Homo sapiens: one gene and its partner. The protein of the gene in region 1 interacts with the protein of each later gene in a pairwise test. Each region holds a gene or a part of one and is shown on either strand. Other genes may lie near its edges. The genes, in order: BRD10 and UBTD1.

Region 1 (3,824 bases):
TCAAGCAGTTCTCGTCCCTCAGCCTCCCGAATAGCTGGGATTACAGGTGCCCACCACCACGCCTGGCTAATTTTTGTATTTTTAGTAGAGACAGGGCTTCACCGTGTTGGCCAGGCTGGTCTCAAACTCCTGGGCTCAAGAGGTCTGCCTACCTCGGCCTCCCAAAGTGCTGGGATTATAGGCATGAGCCACCATGCCTGGCCAGATACATATAATTTTTTAAGTTTCAAGTTTCTTATGCCTATACCATAGGTTCTGTCTTCCTGAGCATTGGCAAGACTGAACTAAGCATCTTAGACACACTTAAGATTAAAGCATTTCTAGTGACTTAATAAAAAATATTTCCATATGTAGTTTAAAATGTTAAAAGTTAGTTTAGATTCCAAGAATTTAAATCATATGTATTATTTATTATGTTGGGCATTTTATTTCAGGAGCCGCCTGAAGAAAGACTATGATGATTTCAGAAGACAACCTGATCATGATACATTTAATAGAGAACTATGGACCACTGATGAAGGTGAAGGAGATCTTGGAAAAGACTCTCCTAAGGGAGAAATCAGTAAGTCTATAGACTCAACAGAACCTCTGGATATCCTGGAGAAAGATCACTTTGATTCAGGTAAGCATTAAACTTTTTTTTTAAGTCAACACTGAAGGCACAAAGAGAAGTTTTTGTTTGCTGTGAAGGCAAAAGATAATATGGTCAATGAAATATATTGATTAGGGAAATCTGTTATGTTTTGAAGAAGTAGTGTCCACATCCTTATAAGAAGTTTCTACTAGCCTAGGCAACATAGCGAGACCCCATCTCAACAAAAAAATAAATAAAAATTAGCCAGGCATGGTGGTTGCATCCCTGTAGTCCCAGCTATTCAAGAGGTCGAGATAGGAGTATCACTTGAGGCCAGGAATTTAAGGTTACAGTGAGCTGTCCACTGCTTTCTAGACTGGGCAACAGAGCAAAATGCTGTCTCAAAAAAAAAAAAAAGTTTCTTGGAGTCATTATTACATTTCTAGGAGTTTCAGGAGCCAGTAATTGACTGCAAACTGTAGGCCTGTCATTGCCCATTACAAACCACACACCCTTGATCTGTAATCCCTTTGAAATTGGTTCATGCTCTTCTTTTTATTATTAGTATTTTTGAAGCACTGTATCTGAAATTTACTTTAGAAATAGAATTTGACAAGTTCTTAATATTGTGAAGATTATTTTTTCAGGAATTACCATGGTTGATGGCCTAATGAGACCAGAATGAACACATCATTTTAATAAGGATAAAGGGCTGGATTAGATTACCTGTAATTCATTTCAGTTTATCAGATTACGTTATGTAAATCTAGTTTAATGACTTTCTTTGGTTATGTAGAGGTTAATATGGGCAACAGAGTGGTTAGAAATGCATTAACTTATTGTTTTCCATCTTTGGCAAATTAAGAGTAATGTCTTATAAACCTAGTTTGACCGAATATGAACATAAATTTTTTCACTATAAGGATGAACATCAGTAAAAGCTGGATATTTTTTGTCCTTTAGAGTCTCTAGAAATAGAATAGATTGGAGAACCATCTCTCTATGGTATCAAAATGTTCCTAGCTAGAAAAAGAGAACTAGATTCCTTTGCAAATTAAATTCTGAGCCCTGATTGTTTATTTGGGTATTTCTAATGAAACAGTTTTTTGCACTTACACTGGCAGAAGAATTAGCAGAATTCTTGACCAAAAATTTTGACCAAAAAAATTTTCTCAATAATAGGTTTTTCTTGGGCATGGTTATGATATCTAGATTATCATGTCAAAGATGACCTTACCTTTGTCTTCATCAGTGGTGCTAAGGCTTTTGAATCACCCTGCAGTAGATTTCTTAATACACTGCCAGCTCAAAGATTGACTTTCTTTTTTACAGTTGATGTTATTACTATTTAGTTGCTGTTTTATATAAACAAAATGCCCGTTTTTATAATTTTCAGATGATATGAAGTTGTCAGAAATAGATTTTCCTATGGCTAGAAGCAAGCTGTTGAAAAAGGAATTGCCTTCAAAAGACTTACCGAAGACACTGCTTAAAACACTTAAACGACAGTCCAAACAAACTGATTATGTGGATGACAGCACAAAAGAGCTTTCTCCAAGGAAGAAGGCAAAGTTAAGCACAAATGAGACAACAGTTGAGAATCTAGAAAGTGATGTGCAGATTGACTGTTTCAGTGAATCAAAGCATACAGAGCCATCATTTCCAGAGTCATTTGCCTCATTGGATTCAGTACCAGTGTCTACTCTCCAGAAAGGGACCAAACCCATTCAGGCTTTGCTTGCAAAGAATATTGGGAATAAAGTGACCTTAACAAATCAACTGCCTCCTTCCACAGGTAGAAATGCTCTTGCTGTGGAAAAACCAGTTTTATCTCCTCCGGAAGCAAGCCCGATAAAGCCAGCATTGACCTGCCACACCAATACAAAAGGTCCTTTACAAATGGTATACAAAATGCCCTGTGGCCAGTGGTTGCCAATAGATCTTCAAAATAGCTCTGTAAAGATTCAGGTGCAGCCTATGGTGGATCCTAAAACAGGAGAAAAAATCATGCAGCAAGTTCTTATTCTGCCTAAGAATTTTGTGATTCAGCATAAAGAAGGAAAAGCAGTTGCAAAAGAAGTGCCACCACTTCAACAGAAAGGTACAGAACAACATTGTTCATCTTTCCCACAGACAACAAATATAAATTCTTCTTTAGCATCAGTTTTTGTCAACTCACCAGGAACTGTTTCTACCCAACTACCAAATACAGCTTTCAACAAAACAATTACACCTTTATCAAATATAAGTAGTGCTAGACCACAGCCTTTGTCGCCTGTAACCTCTGTAAGTAACTTATTAACACCATCAGTTAAGACTAGCCAGAGTGAGGCAGGAAAAGCCAAGAATGCAGTTTCAGCAGCCACATTCTCCTTGCCCAGTGCTTCACCGACCATTTCCTCCACAGGTCAGCCTCTGTCATCAACAACAACACTAAATGGGTCTACAAATCCTGGTAGTTCCTTCAACTGTTTTGCACAACAGACTGCTGATTCTTCTGAAGCAAAGCAAGAGCTGAAAACTGTGTGCATAAGAGATTCACAGTCAATTCTTGTTAGGACACGAGGTGGGAACACTGGAGTTGTAAAAGTACAGACCAACCCAGATCAAAATTCACCCAATACTGTATCTTCAAGTTCAGTTTTCACTTTTGCTCCTCAGCTGCAGGCATTTCTGGTGCCAAAATCAACAACTTCTTCCTCTGCTTTTTCACCTGTAGCTGGAACAACTACTACATCTAGTCTTTCACCTTTTAGCCAAACACCAACTTCTGTTTCCATTCCAGCTAGCTTTGCCCCATCCATGGGGAAAAATCTCAAACTTACATTAGGCCACACCACTGGCAGTGGTGATTTGGGCCACGTGATAGATAAAACTTCACACATGCCCTCTTCTCCCTTGAAGTCCTCTATTTGTTCTAGTACTCTACTACCATCAACAACAAGTAGTTCGGTAAGTGTAATTAGCATATCAGCAGCAAATTTTGGACAAAACAATGCAAATATTATTCATACTCCAACTAAACAGCAACAAGTAGATTATATCACAAAAAGTTACCCTGTTACAAGGTCAGAAGCAACAGCAGCAACAAATGGAGATGTAATCAGTGGGACTCCAGTTCAGAAACTTATGCTGGTATCAGCTCCATCTATTCTTTCTTCTGGCAATGGAACTGCAATTAATATGACACCTGCGCTGACATCTACAGGTGTTTCTGCCCAGAAATTAGTTTTTATTAATGCCCCAGTTC
Region 2 (3,715 bases), on another chromosome or scaffold:
CAGTGTTGGCCCAGCTGGTCTCGAACTCCTGACCTCAGGTGATCTGCCCACCTTGGCCTCCCAAAGTGTTGGGATTACAGGCATGAGCCACCACCCCCAGCCCACAACTCCTTATCTTAACCCAGACATTCCTTTCTGTTGATTCGAGGACTTAAGATAATAACTCTTTCAACCAATTGCCAACCAGAACATCTTTAAATCCACCTATGACCTTTAAGTCCCCGCCCCTTCAAGTTGTCGCTCCTTTCCACACAAACCAATGTATATCTCACATGTAATGATTGATGTCTTAAATCTCCCTAAAACATATAAAACCAAGCTGTAATCCAACTACCTTGGGCACATGTTCTCAGAACCTCTTGAGACTGCATCACAAGTCATGGCCCTCACATTTGGCTCAGAATAAATCTCTTCAAATATTTTACGGGGTTTGGCTTTTTTTGTCCAACAGTCTGTCCCTGTTCCAGTACTGTGCCAACTGTAGCTTTATAATTAATGCTGATCATGGCAGCACAACTTCTCCCACCTGATTCTTTTCTAGGAACATCTTTGTTCTTCTATATAAAATTTAGAATCAGTTTGCCAGGTTCCTTGGGAAAAAACTGACAGGAATTATATTGGAATTGTATTACATTTATAGATCAGTTTAGGGGGAGTGGACATCTCCATGATTTCTTTGAATGTTGCTTCCTTCCCATTTTCCCTATTGTATACTTCTGGAAATTCAGTTCAAAATTTTAGACCTAGCAGGGCATAGTGTCACCTATATAGTCCCAGCTGCTTGGGAGGCTGCTGGGGGAGAATACCTTGAGCCCAGGAGTTTGAGGCTGCAGTGAGCTATGATCACACCACCGCACTCCAGACTGGGCGACAGAGTGACCTTGTCTCTCAAACAGAAAAAAGACATCCGAATCTCAATTATATTGTATTTTTCTTTATTTTTATTTTCTTTTTATTTTTTTGAGACAGGGTCTCACTTTGTCACCCAGGCTGGATTTGGAGTGCAGTGGCATGATCATGGCTCACTGCAGCCTCAACCTTTCTGGGCTCAGGTGATCCTCCCACCTCAGCCTCCTAAATAACTGGGACTACAGCTGCATGCCACCATGCCCGACTAATTTTTTGTATTTTTTGTAGAGACAGGTTTTTGCCATATTGCCCAGGCTGATCTCGAATTCCTGGGCTCAAGTGATCCATCTGCCTTGACCTCCCAAAGTGCTGGGACTACAGGTGTGAGCCACTAGGCCTGGCCTGTATTTTTAATTTTTAGAAGTTCTATATGGTTCTTTTAAGATCTTCTTGGTTATACCTACTATGTACCCACAAAAATTAAACATTTTTAAAAAATCTCCTTGGTCATTCTTTATAATCTCTTATTCATATTTTTAAGGCCCTCATCCCTTAACTCAGTATTTCATAATCTATCCAAAGTCTTTGCAAATCTGATTCTTTTGTCTGCTGTTTTTGCCAGTAAAGCTCGTACTGCCTTGTTTCCTTGCATATTGAGATTTTTTTTTTTTTTTTTAAAACTATTACCTTATTTATTTTTCTTGGAACTTTATCTTGGGAATTCTTTGAGGCCTGGTTTGAAGTTGTTTTCCTCCAAAGAGGGTTTGCCTTTCCTTCTGCCACCTCACCACCCCAGGAACACTTTAAATTAAATATTTGGCTTTAGAGTTTTCTGCCCCTACAGGTAACTGTGAATTCAGATGGTGAACTACAGGATTTAGTCAGACCTGAGGTGGAACCCTCACTCACTTACTATGTGACCTGGGGCAAGTCATTTAATCTCTCTAAATCTGTCATATCACCTGTGAAATAGCAATAATAATACCTACTGCCTAAGGCTACTGCAAGAATGAAATGGGATCATGTATATAAATAAAGGCTTGCCTGGGGTTCTTTCTCAGCGGAGATCGCTGCCTGCAATTCTCTTCCTTGCTTCCTTTTGCCCCAGCCAGTGGGAGCAGCCTGGTGGTGGCCCCCAGCCTCAGTTCTTCCACTCACTGTAGGACCTGAGTTATAGTGGAAGCAGAGTGCTTCACATCTCACTCCTGTGGCTCACTCTGCCTTTAGTTTTGAGATGACTGAGCCTCCAAAAGCCTTTGAGAGATACCTCTGCCCTCAGTCTTGGCTGTGGTTTGGAGTTGTCTTGGAGGTCACTTGGAGCTGGGTAACAAGAAAAATGACATTTGACAGAATTGTTTTCTTTGTCAGATGCTGCAGGAATTTTTGGGGGAGTTTGTTGGTCATGATTGCTTAAAAAATCCTTTTTTTAAGTGGGACATTAGTAACAAGATGTTAAAATTGTTAATAATTTTTTTTTTGAGACATGGTTTCGCTGTGTTGCCCAGGATGGAGTGCAGTGGCATGACCACAGCTCACTGCAGCCTCAACCTCCCAGGCTCAAGTGATTCTCCCATCTCAGCCTCCCAAGTAGCTGGAACTAGAGGAGCGTGCCATCATGCCTGGCTAATTTTTAAAATTTTTTTGTAGAAACAGGGTTTTACCATGTTGCCCTGGGTGGTCTAGAACTGCCGGGCTCAAGCAATCCTACTGCCTCCCAAAGTGCTGGGATTACAGGCGTGAGCCACCGCGCCCTGCCCCACATCATGTGGGAAGGGTGCGGTGGCTCACGCCTGTAATCCCAGTACTTCGGGAGGCTGAGGCGGGTGGATCACGAGGTCAGGAGTTTGAGACCAGCCTGACTAACATGGTGAAACCCCATCTCTACTAAAAATACAAAAATTAATCAGGCGTGGTGGTGGGCGCCTGTAATCCCAGCTACTCGGGAGGCTGAGGCAGGAGAGTCGCTTGAACCCGGGAGGCGGAGGTTGCAGTGAGCCGAGGTCATGCCATTGCACTCCAGCCTGGGCAACAAGAGTGAAACTCCATCTCAAAAACAAAAAACAAAAAACAAAAACAATGGTAGCGTATGCTTTGCTGACACAATTATTTTATGTCCCTAGGTTGGTTATGTGAAGTTTTCTGACTCTTCCCTGCTATTTAGGAAGGGCTTCAAAGACCTGAATACTTAGTAGCCAGTGCAGCAGGGTTTCAGGGTCTGGCCTGGGGAGGGGAGGGGAGGGGGAGGGCAGGTTGCAGCTCAAGTGGCTTTAGAGATGCTGAGCCTCTCCTTCTGTCCTGCCCAGGACGCAATGAGCCCCTGAAGAAAGAGCGGCTTAAGTGGAAGAGCGACTACCCCATGACTGACGGGCAGCTGCGGAGCAAACGGGATGAGTTCTGGGACACAGCGCCTGCCTTCGAGGGCCGCAAGGAGATCTGGGATGCCCTCAAGGCTGCCGCCTATGCTGCTGAAGCCAACGACCACGAGCTGGCCCAGGCCATCCTGGATGGAGCCAGCATCACCCTGCCTCATGGTAAGTGGGCAGGGCCAGGGCTTTATCCCCGCTGGAGCTAGGGGGTCACCAGCACAGTTTGAGGGTGTTGAGGAGTGTGGAGCGGTGGGGCAGGTGGTTACTCACGTATTCATTCATTCAAGCACCCCTTACTGAGCATGGACCAGGAGTGGGTACACAAAGAAAAAGAGACACAGTCTATGCTTGCCTAATGACATGACAGAAAGACAACAAACCTGCAAAGCAGTGTCACAAATGCACTTTGGGACCCCAGAACATCCAAGGCACTGACCTTTTTATTTTATTTTTTTTTTTGAGATGGAGTCTTACTTGCTCTGTTGGCTAGGCTGAGGCTC

The links.
Region 2: the proteins of BRD10 (region 1) and UBTD1 interact in a two-hybrid assay, tested with the Homo sapiens proteins (one study listed by BioGRID).

Annotation. Positions count from the first base shown.
Region 1 is NC_000009.12:5,921,456-5,925,279, reverse strand, and holds part of BRD10 (uncharacterized bromodomain-containing protein 10), read left to right. Parts: intron 1-434; coding exon 435-622; intron 623-1,970; coding exon 1,971-3,824.
Region 2 is NC_000010.11:97,564,762-97,568,476, forward strand, and holds part of UBTD1 (ubiquitin domain-containing protein 1), read left to right. Parts: intron 1-3,152; coding exon 3,153-3,380; intron 3,381-3,715. UniProt on the Homo sapiens protein: May be involved in the regulation of cellular senescence through a positive feedback loop with TP53. Is a TP53 downstream target gene that increases the stability of TP53 protein by promoting the ubiquitination and degradation of MDM2.